2 linked regions of the Homo sapiens genome follow. The protein of the gene in region 1 interacts with the protein of each later gene in a pairwise test. Each region holds a gene or a part of one and is shown on either strand. Other genes may lie near its edges.

Region 1 (7,279 bases):
CAGAGGTGAAGCTGCCAGGCAGCAGACAGATGTAACAGTTTGGGCCGAGGTAATAAGGCCTAAGCGAAAAAGAGATGAAAAGATAATGGATATGACAGTTCTATGTATCAAACATTTCAAAGTTCAATTCACAGGAATTAGCAAGTGATTGCATAGATAAAGGAGAGAGAAGAGAAAGGGCAGAATGGATTTTAAAAGCAAGTTTAAGAGATATAAATATTCAACTGCATCAACATTCATCTCCTTGCTTTCTCTGCCTTCCAAAAATGAAAGCAATTTGACTTGAATTGCGTTCATCTCACACCCATTATTTGAGGGAAACATTACCTTGTTTATTTTATATCTGATAAATCATGGCATCATAGGATTGTGTGAGGCTTGGGAAAGCCATCTCTTCCATCTCTCTGTTTGGGCAGAACAGACCAGCAGTAAAAACTGCCTGAGAAAGGAGGCTGGCTCTAGAGCATCCTCCTTGTATGTGGCACCGAGTAATTCTACTCAGAATTATTGGGCAGTTCTACCTAGAAATGGAGTTTCTATTTACAAATGGAACCTCTAAAGCAATGATTGGTTTTAGGAATCATTCTACCTCACCTCTGGATTATAGTATTATATTTGTATGAAGAAAGCAGAAGATGTAGATTTGCAAACTCTGCCATTTTCCTTTTCTGTATCAATCATTCTGTCTAGAGAGAGGGAGCATCCTGATACATTCCGGTCCCTTTGCCCCAGTACATTGCCATAAACAAAATGATACATTTCTCAAAGCCCTGGTTTTTGTTTTGTTTTGTTTTTGTTTTTGTTCTGTTTTGTGTTTTGAAACGGAGTCTCACCCTGTCACCCAGGCTGGAGTGCAGTGGCATTATCTCAGCTCACTGCAACCTCCACCTCCTGGTTTCAAGCAATTTTCCTGCCTCAGCCTCCTCAGTAGCTAGGACTACAGGCGCCCGCCACCATGCTCAGCTAATTTTTTTGTATTTTTAGTAGAGACGAGGTTTCACCATGTTGGCTAGGCTTGTATCAAACTCCTGACCTCAGGTGATCTGCCCGCCTTGGCCTCCCAAAGTGCTGGGATTACAGGCGTGCGCCACCATGCCCAGCCCAAAATGGATACGTTTCTTACATGGGAAATGAATGGCAATCTAACTGCAAATTCTTGAAAGTCCCCATTTAAGAAAATTGCATTGCTTTTTAGGTAACCTGTTGAACAGTTTCAGCGTGAACCTGGACACAGTCTACTTCCAAAGTCCAGGTGCTCATGGAGGACCCTTTCTCCAAGCTCCAGATCTGTCTGTTCATTGTGGTAGCTGCTAGCCACCTGTGGCTTTTGAGCCCTTGAAATGTGGCTGGTCTGAACTGATATGTGCTGTAAATGTGAAATACACACCAGATATCAAAGGCTTAAGATGAAATAAAGAATATAACACATCTTCATTAGTAAATTTTAAATTGATGACATGTTGCAATGACCATGTTTTGGATATGCTGGGTTAAACAAATGCATTGTTACAATTAATTTCACCTGTTGCTGTTTACCTTTTTAATGTGGCTGCTGGAAAATTTCAGTGATATATTTGGCCATATGACATTTCTATTGGGCAACATTAAAGTATGAAACTGGTAATTCTCCAGGGAATTGAATAGCTCCTGCGTGAAGGTTGGGTGAACGGGAAGCAGGTGACAGGGATTGATAGGTAACAGAAGAGGAAACGGAGGAGTAACAAGAACAGTATCTCAGCACTCTAGGCCTCAGAGAGATTGTCAGTGGCACCTCCAGTCGCACCTGAAACTGAACAGACAGTAACCAGTGGGCCTGTTTGTTTTGCTCCTAGCAACAGGTCCCAGCTGGTCCCAGCCCAGCCGAGTCTGCCAGATGCTTTTCAAGCATGTTGTGGTAATACAGCCTGGTGATGGCAACATCCTGAATGGCTGTAGCAAGGAGCTTTATCCAAAAAGAGTAGCAGCTGTTTTCTAGTGGCTCTTCAACTACATCAACACTGTTTTCCTGAAATATTCTTAGGTCCCGTGTGCAAATGAGTTTTCTGCAGTCTCCAAAGTTGGTGGTTACAGGTCCTGTGCTTTATGTTTTGCTGAAATCTTCACTCTTAACCACCATCACTTTCCTCTTGAATGGTATTTTTTTTTTTCTAATGTGACATGGGAGAAATTTACAGACATGCCAATCAGAATTTCTGAGTATGTTTTAGAATTTGAAATATATCTGAGTGATTTGAGGTTTTGTTGTTCTTACAATATCATGCTCATTTTATTTTTCTCTCTCTTTTTATGTGAAGACTCAATTTACCTGTTGCTGTATTTAATTCCTTTGAATTATATAGCCTTGGCCCTTTCAAGAGAAGCTAAGCAAAATATGTTAACCTCATAGGGGATGGTGATACTCTACAATTTTGTGGCATGTCTCTATCCTACACGTAGTCTAGGTCAAACATAACATAACATGGTTATGTTACAAACTAATTGTAACAATGCATTATTTCACAACTGCAGACAGAGAAAACTACTTATGACATCACTTAAAGGAACCGGGCCTGTCTTACTGATCTTTCCAAGCCTGGCAGGAGGTAGACTGTGAAGAAGGCATGTGTTGTTCCTGGCTTTCTGCTCTCCCTGCCTGTGCTCCTCCTTACTGGGCAGATAGATCTCTGCTTCCTGGCCTCCTCCTTCCTCCCTCCTCCCTCCTGTACCTGCTAGACACCCACCCCCATCCCCAAGAACTCTATTTATGCAGGCTCCTTGTTCCTTTCTGCTTTTGTGTGAACTGAGCCATATTATAAAAGGCAACTTACTTCTCTCTTTTTTCTAGGAATGTCATTTAGCTACTTCTTGCCTAGTAAAGGATCTTACCCTTAGCTTATTCACACTAAGCTATTGGTAAATGAGGAGATTTGATACATGATTTCTCTCTGGATAGTTTTGGCTTTGTTTGTTTTAGGTCATAAGATGAGGAAAGTCTGGAAATTCAAAGGGATAAACATCAATGAATACGAACTGAGAGAGATGGAGACTAATTTTTTTTTTTTTTTTTTTTTGAGATGGTGTCTCACTCGGTAGCCCAGGTTGGAGTGCAGTGGTGCAATCTTGGCTCACTGTAACCTCCACCTTCCATGTTGAAGCAATTGTCCTGCCTCAGCCTCCTGAGTAGCTGGGACTACAGGCACATGCCACCACGGCCAGCTAATTTTTTTTTTTTGTTTTTCGAGACAGAATCTCGCTCTGTCACTCAGGCTGGAGTGCAGTGGCGTGATCTCGGCTCACTGCAACCTCCACCTCCTGGGTTCAGGCGATTCTCCTGCCTCATCCTCCTGAGTAGCTGGTATCACAGGTGTCCGCCACCACGCCTGGCGAATTTTTTTGTATTTTTAGTAGAGATGGGGTTTCACCATGTTGGTCACATTAGTCTTGAACTCCTGACCTCAAATGATCTGTTTCCCTCTGCCTCTACCTCCCAAAGTGCTGGGATGACAGGTGTGAGCCACTGTGCCCAGCCTAACTTTTGTATTTTTTAGTAGAAACAGGGTTTCGCCATGTTGGCCAGGCTAGTGTCAAACTCCTGACCTCAGGTGGTCCACCCACATTGCTTTCTCAAAGTGCTGGGATTACAAGCATGAGCCACCGTGCCCGGCCTAATTTTAAGTGTCAGTATTTTGCTCATGGGAAGTAATCTGTAGGTAGGAGAAGTGTCACAATAACCATAAAAGCACAGAAGCCACATCATTCTTCAGGTTGTCCCCAGGGGCTGCCAAGACAACTTTGAGTGCACGGCTAAAATCTCCAGTTAACTGACAACTTCTGTAATTAATTATTCCTGTCTCCTTCAATCATGCAGCAATTAGATTTTCATTACCTGTGAAAAGGTCAACATTTATTTGCTGATTTTTAAGACTGGAGTCCATTCTTAAGTTACTTCGTGTCAAGGAAGATGGATATTCATTCACACTAAGCTGATATTAACATCATGATGGATTTTGAATGTCTTTTTAATAAGTCATTAATATATTTTTGGAAATTTCTTAAGAATTTTTTTCCCTAGTTTCTGAAATCTTAGCTTGATGTTTTGGAACAACTAAAGGAATATAAATATAAGAGTTTTTTTTTTCTTTTTACTGTGGTGACATAATTTGTTTTAAGCTTCATATAGCTAATAGCAATTAGTGGAAATTAGTGACTTTTGGGACTCTTTCAAGAAGGACACAGAGACCTGCATGTGTCAGGGAGAATCTATAGGTAACACCTTGTACTACAGCCAAATCCCCTTTCCTGTCTCCCCTTTTCCTTATACAACCTGGGCTGCACTAATGATTAACTGTTTCAGATATTGGGCGTTCATATATTTTAATGCTGGTAAAAAATATTTAGAAAAACTGTTCACAAAAGTAGCTGCACTTGAAGTAGCAAATTAACTAAAACAATTACATATATTTTTTTTTTCAAATTTAGTCAGCTAAATATTTGAACACTTAATCTTCCCTGTCTTTTCCGTTTGGGAGAGGTTTGGCCTTCACTTTTTTCCCCCCTTAATTCCTTCAGAAGAAGTAGTCTAGTCCTTATTTTCAAGGATTTCAAGTAACTGAAAACCAAATCTTTCGAGCAAGATGGACTTAATTTTAAATACACATTAGATTAAAATAAATTTAATTTTGTAATAGCAGGATGAATTTTCACTAACATTTTTAAAGGTATATGAAAATGGACTATTAGCTTTCCAAAGATGCTTTAAATGTTTTTTTGTTTTCTGATCCTGACTGTTATTATAATAACAAAATAACTGGTCAGTAAGTAATCACTCTACAGTTTTTTAAAAAAAAAGAAACTTTAGAAGAGAAATTCCTGTGGAAATTAGTAAAATAACAGAATAGAGATATAATGAAGCATATATATTTATTTTGTCTTTTAATATGATATATGATAGGGATTTGCTCTAACACTCTTAAGGCATGAGCAAATGAATACTTTAAATAAATCATCCCTTATACACTTAAGTAATTGAAGAACAATTTTTTTTCTCAAAACTATCACCAGCATGCATGCAGTTCAGTGTGCTATAGTTGTTTGGTGTATAAACTATCTTAGTACAGTTGAAAACTGTAATAATTTCATTACATATACTTTGCATAGGTAGCTAAGTACGCCTGAAATAACATTTATGAACAGGATTCCCAGGGGTCTGGAAAAATTAATGTGAGTTTTTAAATGTGTTCAACTTCTTGCAGAGAACAGCCACCTCCTCTGTGACTGAATGTCTTCAACATTGTGTGGCTCTCACAGTGCCTGTTGTACAATTGTAAGCAACCACAAAAAAGCTTACACATTCAAGAAGTTGGATAATGAGACATATTTATCACTAAAATGCTAAAATTAAAGGACAATAGAATTGCGAAGATACTCTTTTCTGTTCATTTAAAAACGGTACTGGAGGCTGGACATGGTAGCTCACTCCTGTAGTCCCACCACTTTGGGAGGCTGGGGCGGGAGAATTGCTTAAAGTCATGAGTTCAAGACCAGCCTAGGCAACATAGTGAGACCCTGTCTCTACAAAAAACAAAAATTAGCCAAGCACGGCAATGTGTGCCTGTAGTTCCAGTTACTTGGGAGGCTGAGGTGGGAGGATTGCTTGAGCCCAGAGGGTGTGGGGTGTAGTCAAGGCTGCAGTGAGCCATGATCATATCACTGCACTCCAGCCTGGGTGACAGCACAAGACACTGTCTCAAAAAAAAAAAAAAAAATGGGATGAGATTATATTTTGTCTTTGTTCTCAAAGATAATTCATGTTCCTCATGAGGATAAACGGTGAATTTAACAAAGATTGTCGCTACACCCCCAAAGAAACAGGCCTTAAAAATACTTTCTAGGTAATAAGTATTTTTGCACATAGGTTAATATAAATTTAAAAGAAAATTTTAAAGAGATTTTCATACTTTATTTTAGCCTTCTTAGGCCTTAGAAAATGCATCTGTCCAAACCTTTACATAATAATTGGAAAAGAAAAAAAGTGGTTAAAAGAATGTTATTTTTCAACAGTTTACTGAATAATGTTTACACAAGTAAAAAGAATGAGCTGTTAACCGAGGACAACCTTGTATATTACATTATGAAAGACCAGCGTAGCTTTCTTGCCGTTTATGAAGTTGAGAGTTAATTAAATGTCATGGAAACACATTTGTATTATATAAATCCCTTAGATACTCTGAATAGAACAAACATATATAAGAAAATTTTTTGCTTTAAGATGATACCACCCTCTCACTGATAGCAAATTCGTCTAAATTACTCATAACGCAAATGTTTGTAATAGATTTCAGCTTGCCTAAGTGCTACATATATTATGGCAGATATTTTAATGAAAAGCATATGAATAGAGAAAGCATAACCAAATAGCATTTTGAGAACCTGAATGTGATGATTTTAAAAATAAATGTTGTAAATTTTGATAATCTAAGGAAGTCTCTATGAGCCTAATAATTGTCAACATGTTATACGCTTTAGTCCAGTTTGTTTCCACATCTTCCAACCCCTGTATAGGTATCACTTTTTATGTATTACTTTGAGTCCTTACCATGTGTTAGATCTTATGCTAAATGCTATAAATACATTATTTCGTTTCATACTTAATCCTATGAGGTATTATTTCATCTAATACTTAACCCCATTTTAAAGATGAAAAGATTGATGCTTGAAAAAGTTAAGAAATTTGGTGAAGATTTGCTATGTCCAGGATTCTAACCTGTGTGCTACATTTAACTCTAAACTCAACTGTTAAGCTATTGTTCATTTATATTTTAATGTTTAATATTTGCCCTTACTGCATCTATGCTTAGAATTAAACATAGATTGATGTGTAGTTTATTCTTAGGGTTCTGAATGTAAACATAATAGGAAAAGCAAGTTCATTTTTAGATGTTTCTGCTTGGCCCAATCCTATTATCGAAACAAATCATCTTACCTTTAACTTCCTGTTTTAAATGCTTATTTTTAAATGCTTTATCATTACAGGCTTTTGCCTCTTGCCTGCTAACACATTTATAAGACGACATCCATTGTTTTAATTCACTAGTTATTAAATGCTTTGCCAAGAAAACCCTCCTCAGCCGGGTGCAACGGCTCATGCCTGTAATCCTAACACTTTGGGAGGCCAAGGCGGGCGGATCACCTGAGGTTGGGAGTTCGAGACCACCCTGACCAACATGGAGAAACCCTGTCTCTACTGAAAATACAAAATTAGCCAGACGTGGTGGCACATGCTTGTAATCCCAGCTATGCG
Region 2 (7,688 bases), on another chromosome or scaffold:
ATCTGCTGGTCAGCATGCCACTGGTGATGCTCAGCCTGGTCCTTGTCACCAAACTTCTTCTCCAAAACCAATGGCCCTCAGCTAGGGACCAGTGTCTCAGGGATCTGCTGAACATAAAGCTAGTTTCTTTAAATGAAATCATTTTCACTTATCACCTATCATCAAACATGACAGTGTATGTGAAAAGGTTTTGTCCCCAAGATATAACATAAATGACAACAATAATATACCAAGCTTACTTCACTCATATCCTTGGAAACCTAGATACTTCTGATCAAAATTAGTAAAAGTTGCTCCATATACAAACGCTATGTCAAAATTTTTTTAAGAATTGCTTAATCCTGTGTCTTCCTTTAGGATGTACCACCCTTACCTTGAGTGGCATTGCCTTTGAAGCCCAAAGCAAATATTTTCTTTTAAAACCTAATGGTTTTAAACTGTCTCTTCTAAAGTCTGTGAGTCAGTTCCAGTTGTTTATTACACAGCCAAATTCAGAGAGATTAAGGACACCAAAGTTTTTTTAATGAAGAAGATGAGTTTCTTTTAGTCATAAAGATTGTTTCTATCATATCATTCCCCATGTGTTGACATGGCAACTCTGCTCTGTCTTGCTCCACAGACCTACGGGTACTTAGGGAAGTCCTGTGTTCTGTCAGCCACTGGTCCCAGCTAGTTCATGCTTGGCGCAGGCCCCAGCCTGGGGTGGACCAAGAGCCCACCCATGTTCATCACACGTCAAGCTTCAACCTTGCAGAAGAGAACAGCAGCAGCCAAGGGTCACTGTGACTCAGTGATCGGGAAGGATGTATTCACAGCGCTATCCTATTATGGTCTATTTTGTGTAATTTAGTCAGGTATCCAATACTATTCTAGCAGGAGACATGATTTATTTTATTTCATTGGTTTGATGTTTTTGTTTTGTTTTGTTTTATAGTCTTTAAGGTACCCAGAGTCCTCAGAGAGGCCAGATGGCAGCTGAGTTGTTTGGGATTAGTGAGTCTGCTTTGGGGCCAAGGACAGCCACCAGGAAATCTCCAGCTGGGCCTGCTTTCTCTTCCCTGCTTCCTTCCCACCCGACTCTCACCTCTGTGGAAACTCCCAAAGTCTCAGAAGTCGTGATTTTTCCATTGGCTGCTGGGGTTAAAATTGAGCCACCAATGCCTTCCTACAGAGAAGGGGGAGGGTGGTGGATGAAAAAGTGAAATTCCTGCTCCTGAACCTTATACAGGAGATTTCTTACCCGAGGGAATTTGAAACTGTTCCGGAGGAGAATTTCCCCAGCCCAGCCTAATTTTTACCAATCTGAGAAATTGCACCTCCCACTTCCCCTTTCCCCCCTTGAATGATCTCTGTCAGGCTGCCTGGGCGCTGCTGTAACTTCTGAAGGTTACAACATAGAACACCACGGTTGTCAGGTAACAATGACGGAAACACTTGCTCCCTGAGCTGAGCATTGTGTTATTATATCAGAATAGCCTCTAGCGAGGGAGAGAGTATATTTCTTCATAAGGGGGAGGAGAGAAGCAGGCACAGGCCTCCTCTTCCAGCTGTGTCTCTTCTAGCTGGTCAACATCAGGATTGGGCCTGAAATGTGAGCAGAAAACACAGGTACATTATGGTCCAAAGCACCATTCACAGAACCAAGGCTGCCATCGTGGGCAACAGGCTAAGAAGAGATTCACAGTCTCCCAACACCTTATTCATGGACCAAACAGCCACAGATCATGACGGAGATGGCTAGAAGGAGTGCATTCCCCCAGTAGACACGCCATACCTGTGATTTCCACCGTCCGTGAAAGAAAGGCAGCCCTCATCAACCACAAATGCAGAGTTATCTTGAGGGTAGATGGTGTAGTATTGAGGAGGACTTGACATGGCGGCTGCTGCCCCTCCAGAGGTTATGAGGCCGCAGGGGCTCACCACAGACTGCAGGTAGCTGGTATTTATCCCCATAGGCTCTGGAGAACCATAAGGAGGAGGGATGTACTGCACCACAGTGGCCCCATGGAAGGTGATGGGTTGGTTGATGCCAGTGAAAACAAATGATGGTCCTCCTGGTGTCTGTTCCGAGTCCGGGACCCTTTCCTCACTTTCTTTGCACAACTGGCAGGAGAGCATTTTGAACTTGCACACAGCAATCAGGATGAATGTCACCCCAACTGACAGCAGGACGGGCCCAAGGAGCTGGGTCCATTCAAAGTGGGAGACACCTTGGTATTTGATCCAGCCCATGACAGTGAATGTGATCCCCACCAGTCCCAGAAAGATGCCTGAGAAGAGCAAGGTGGCCCCCGCCTTGTCATCATCGGACACCTGGATGTCAGCGGTGCTGGGTGTGTAAGGAGTGACGGAGAACACATTGACAGGGAAGTCCTCCAAGCGGCCGCTGCCCTGCTCCATTGCTCCTTGTGGGCTCACCCTGCTTCTTAGAGTGGAGAGGATTGTGAGAACCAAGGAATCACAGGTCCAAATTAGTTATAGAAGAACTTAGGGCTTGTGCTTAACAGGGTGTAACACACAGAGGGCTGGACCTTGTTTAGAAGAATAAAGGTCTGAGAAATGAAGCCTGAAGTTTTCTCATGTATTGTCAACAAGTGGAGGTCTCTGTTTTGCAAGTCAATGACAAGCTGTCTCTCTAATTCACATTCATTCATTCACACATTCAAAAATTAACTTATTGAGCCCATCTTTCTCTTTCTTTTTCTTTTCTTTTCTTTTTTTTGTTTTGTTTTGTTTTTTTAGGGTGTGGGTCTCACTCTGTCACCCAGCTGGAATGCAGTGGCACAATGATAGCTCACTGCAGCCTCAACCTCCTGGGTCAAGCGATCCTCCCACCTCATCCTCTCCAGTAGCCAGGACTACAGGCACACATCACAATGCTCAGCCAATTTTTAAAATTTTTTGTAGAGATAGGGTCTCATTATGTTGACCAGGCTGGTCTCAAAACTCCTGGACTCAAGTGCTCCTCCTGCCTTGGCCCCAGGAGGTACTCTTCTATAGCAATTTAAGACGCTGCCATAAGACCCTGTTTTTGTCCTACCCAACTTTGTAGAAATGGCAGAGCTCCCTCAAGGGTCTCCAGCAGTGAATGGGGCCCTTGATATATCCACACATGCACAGGAGTCTAACCTGATTTACCTAGTGGTTCAGTTCATTAGGAATAGACAGACACCTATTTCTTGACTGCGTGTGTATTCCTATCTACTTCAAGAACCCCTAGCTGTGATGATACTTAAACTTTAATAACAGTTCTCACAAAGCCCTGAGATCCTGTTCTTTTCTGGCCAGCCCCACATGCCTTTTGCTTTCTGCGTTTGGGGAGTAATTCCAGCTTTGGGAGAGGAACAACGTCATAGGAAACCTTTTTATGCACTGCATCACTGCCAGTGGTTGAATAAGCATCAGATATGACCTGGCTCACTAGGACACATGCTTCGGACCCTCCCTCCATGGTGGCCACACAGTTCCTGGTCTTCAAGGTGAAACAACCAGCTGTGTTTTGGAACCTACTATGTTTTACAACCAAACCCAAGTTGATGTAGAGAAGACAGTTTAATTTTCAATAACATTATCTGTCATTCATGACTGCAAAACTTCCAAACAGCCCCATGAGTTTCTTCCTCCACTGATTAATAACTGTAGCCTTCTTTCCTTCCTAGACAGATTTTATTCAAGCCGATGCTCTCTGCAGTAATTAAATATTATATTAGCTCCTTTTGCAGAATTGAGAGGGCTGCCGTCTTGCCCTAAGGCAGGGCTTCCTAAACTTCCCTTGACAAAGAAATCACATGGGCCACTTTTTTAAAGGACAAAATGTGAGCTCCCATTTCAGACCAACAGAACCAAATATCCAAGGGAAGGACCTCAGGTGATTCATCATCAAGAAATCTTAGGAAACCCAACCCCAGGTTAACCTTAAATGCTTCTAGGAGACCAAAGGACATTTTTCCCCATGAAAATGCCTCTCCCTGCTACAGGACAAGGCTTGTAATCTCCTACTTCACTGCCAAACAGATGGAAAAGCAAGCAGGTGACCCCTGAGGTATCTTCCTGGATGTGCCTTGGAGCAGCAAGGCTGGAGTGGAGTTGCTATAGGAACAGGCTGCCCTTTTTCCCACTGAGCTAGATCAGAGATCCAGGAAAGCCAGATTTTCTCTTTAACTATAAATTTCTGGTAAGTTAGCCTGCCATTATTTTCAGGTTCTTAACTCCTAAGTTAACAGTCAAAACAATCCCTGACATTTAGAAAAAAGCTAGGATCTCAAAACTGTCTTCTAAATCACTCAATTTATGTTTTCCATTTGCCTTTAGCTATATCCACTAAGAATAACTGGGAAGCCTGAGAGAGTAGAGGAAACAGATCACCCTCCTTTAGACAGCTCATGAATGCAAACTGGAACTGCTTTCAGAGCAGAAAGATCAGAAAGTTCTCCAATTACATTTTCAAGGTCCGTTTGACTCAGCTGCTTCTTCCAAAAGCCCCACCTCTGTCTAGATGGTAAATAGCAATTTTTTTTTAAAGCTAACCAACTGAATTCAATAGCATATTCAAAGGACTATATGCCATGACCAAGTGGAAGGCAAGGCTGGTTCAACGTACAAAAATCAATCTATGTGATGCAGTATATTCACAGAATGAAGGGGAAAAAACAACACACGATCATCTCAATTGATGAGTGAAGGGGAAACATTTATTGAATACTTACTATGTACCAGGTGTAATTCTATACATTTAATATAGGTGACATAATTTCATTCTTTTAACAACCAGGTTACAGTCAAGAAAACTATGCTGATTATTAAGCTATGGTGACTCAGCTCCAAACCCACCTTTCTAAACTTCTCTTTGTCTCAGACTCTCAAAGCACACTTTTCCTTTCCCAGGCTGCTCCAGTTAGGCTTTGCCAATAGGGGGTGCTACAGGGAGACTTCAAGGTGGGAGAAAGGAGAAGGCACTTAGCAGTTTCTATTTTGCTTGCTGTTACTGTCAGTGTCACTCCAACAACAGTTCTTCTTCCTGGCAGTAACAGTTCCAGTTTCCAGAACCCTCCTCCTGCCCTCCAATCAGCCTCACTGTGCCCCTTCAGGGAAACCAACACCAGCCACTGTTCTTTGTCCAAGCTCCTGAGATGCCAGCATTAGCTGAAGGACGTTTTCTACTCAGAGAGCTGCATCCCAGCTCCACAAGGGCCCTTATCCAAGCTTCTGATTTCTAATATAAGCCCAACCTCTTCCTTTTGTTCCCCCAGCCTGCTTTCACTAAGTCTAAGTGTTCTTAGTGTTTATTTTTTGCCTTTTCAATCCTCCAGTATCTGTTAAACTAATTTCCTATACCAAATTCTCTCTATTAAAATAACTGGTATAGTTTCTGTTTCCCTAAGTGATTCTGACTGATATGTCGTATTCACAGTGGGGTTAGGAAACATACCTGTGAAGATGGGATTCTGGAATTGATTTGGTCATATTCTTGGCCTCAAATACAATGCTGAGTCCTCATCAATGAAACATGGGATATTAGTAGATCATGGCATGAAGTGGCATCAAAACTAATAAAAATAGCACCTGTAGTAGGTTGTGAAAAATTGCCTATTGGAGCAAATGCCTTGGGGACCAACTGGCTGCTACACTTAATCACTATGACAATAATGATGAACTGCAAGTTCTGTGGGATGGAGATGGCCACTTCAGAATGCCCTGCAATACTTATAAAAGGAAAAGTAACAAGCTCAGGTCTTTAAATTCAGCTCAAGTCACAGTCAGAGAACCAGAGAGTTTCTGTGGTGGTCCTAAAAGAAACTTGTATCCTATATTTACAGGGCTGACATCACCAAAAGTCAACAAAATTTAAATAGATATCTTTCTATATAGCTATACATCTGTGGAGGCTACAGCCACTCCCTCTTAGATGCTAACCCACCGTGTTCACTGCTGTCTAACTCGTTCCAGGAATGCCTTTAAAATGCCTGTTTTGGAAGGGGAACATCACACACCAGGGCCTGTTTTGGGGTGGGGGGAGGGGGGAGGGATAGCATTTGGAGATATACCTAATGTTAAATGACGAGTTACTGGGTGCAGCACACCAACATGGCACATGTATACATATGTAACTAACCTGCACGTTGTGCACATGTACCCTAACACTTAAAGTATAGTAAAAAAAAAAGTCTGTTTTATCTACTGTTCCTTGCATGAGAGCATGTACTTACTGTAAGCCCTGCCCTTAGATCAAAACAACTTTAATGTTATAGTACTTACCATAAATCCTGACCTTAAGCAATTGTTCTACACATCCCTTCTGAAGCATACATACCCTTTCCCTGAGGTATGTAAGCTCTGGGTCTGGTGAGTAATGGTATAGGATCCACCATCTTGTCTCATGGCTTCCAGGAGCATGGCCTCTGTTCTTAAGTCCCTATTATATGTTCCTTTCTGAGAAACTGGATTTGTCAGCCTCTTTCCTCAGCCTCTTAGCTTCCATGGCCTTTGAGGATAGGTTTGCATAAACCTGCTTACCATGGAACAGTATCTATATCTACATGCGATTGGTTCAGTTTCTCTGGAGAACCCTAATAGACAATGATACTTAAAGTATCTATGGTAAGTAGTGATGCTGTACAGAGTAATCATAGATAAAACCACAGCGCAGGCCTCCAGGGTTTTAGAGAAAATCCATGCTGCTTCTGCAGGCAGCTATTCTTCTTTTGAGACACAGCTCATGATTCTTTACTGGGCCCTGGCTACTGGGCCCTGCATCACCCTAGGACACTGAATGACCCCTGAGCTGCCAATCATGACCTGAGCATATCTGACCCACACAACTGTAAGTTTGAGCATGCACAGCAGTGATTCATTATCAAGTAAAAATGGTATTTAAGAACTTGGACATGAGCAGGTCTAGAATTACAAGTAACTACATAAACAGGCGGTTCAGAGCCTTACACTTACTCTTACTGTGTGGCATCTTCTCCTACAATCCAAACCTATGGCCTAGTAGGGAGCTCTTCCCAGCTAGATGACTGAGGAGAAAAAATCTTAGGTCTTGTGTATACGTTATTCTGCACAACAGTGGACTGCTGAAGCATTATGACACCCATCAGGAGTGTCCCTGAAAGATGCTAGAAATAGGGTAGAATGGAAATCCTAGCGAGCAGAACTTCAAGCAGGACATTTGGTTGTCCATGTTGTCTGAGCTGAGAGATGGCCAATAATACAATCGATGTTGGTTCATAGGCAGAGGTGAGTGGTGTCCTAGGTTTCAAGGACTCAGAAAGAACAAGATTGGAATGTGAGTAACAGGAAGTATGGTGAACAAGTATAAGGATATCTCAAAGTGGGCACAGAGTGTAAAGATAGTTGTGTTCCCTGTGAACACTCACCCAAGGGCATCCACTGCAAAGGAGGCTCTACCAGTCAGGTGAACAAGCTGGTGTATTCTGTGGATATCAGTCAGTCTTTTCCCCCAGACATCAGTGTTTCCTTGATAAGCCCATGTACACAGGATGCAGGCTACCATGATGAAAGCATGAAGGCGATGCATGAGCTTAAAACTAGTAGCTAATCTGGCTACCATCACTGTTGAGTACCTAACCTACCAAAAGCAGAGACCAATGCTGAGTCCTCAGTGTGGCACTATTCCCTGAAGATCACAGCCAAATATCTGATGGCAGCTGGATCATGGTGGACTCCTT

The links.
Region 2: the proteins of CACNB2 (region 1) and TMEM174 interact in binary tests that used the Homo sapiens proteins (3 or more experiments, as listed by UniProt).

What each region holds. Positions count from the first base shown.
Region 1 is NC_000010.11:18,143,278-18,150,556, forward strand, and holds part of CACNB2 (voltage-dependent L-type calcium channel subunit beta-2), read left to right. Parts: intron 1-7,279. UniProt on the Homo sapiens protein: Beta subunit of voltage-dependent calcium channels which contributes to the function of the calcium channel by increasing peak calcium current. Plays a role in shifting voltage dependencies of activation and inactivation of the channel.
Region 2 is NC_000005.10:73,167,956-73,175,643, reverse strand, and holds TMEM174 (transmembrane protein 174), read right to left. Parts: upstream 2,452-7,688; 5' UTR 2,401-2,451; coding exon 1,775-2,400; intron 1,585-1,774; coding exon 1,479-1,584; 3' UTR 501-1,478; downstream 1-500. UniProt on the Homo sapiens protein: Regulator of plasma phosphate homeostasis. Decreases serum inorganic phosphate (Pi) uptake by regulating the sodium-phosphate cotransporter SLC34A1 trafficking by PTH and FGF23 in the kidney.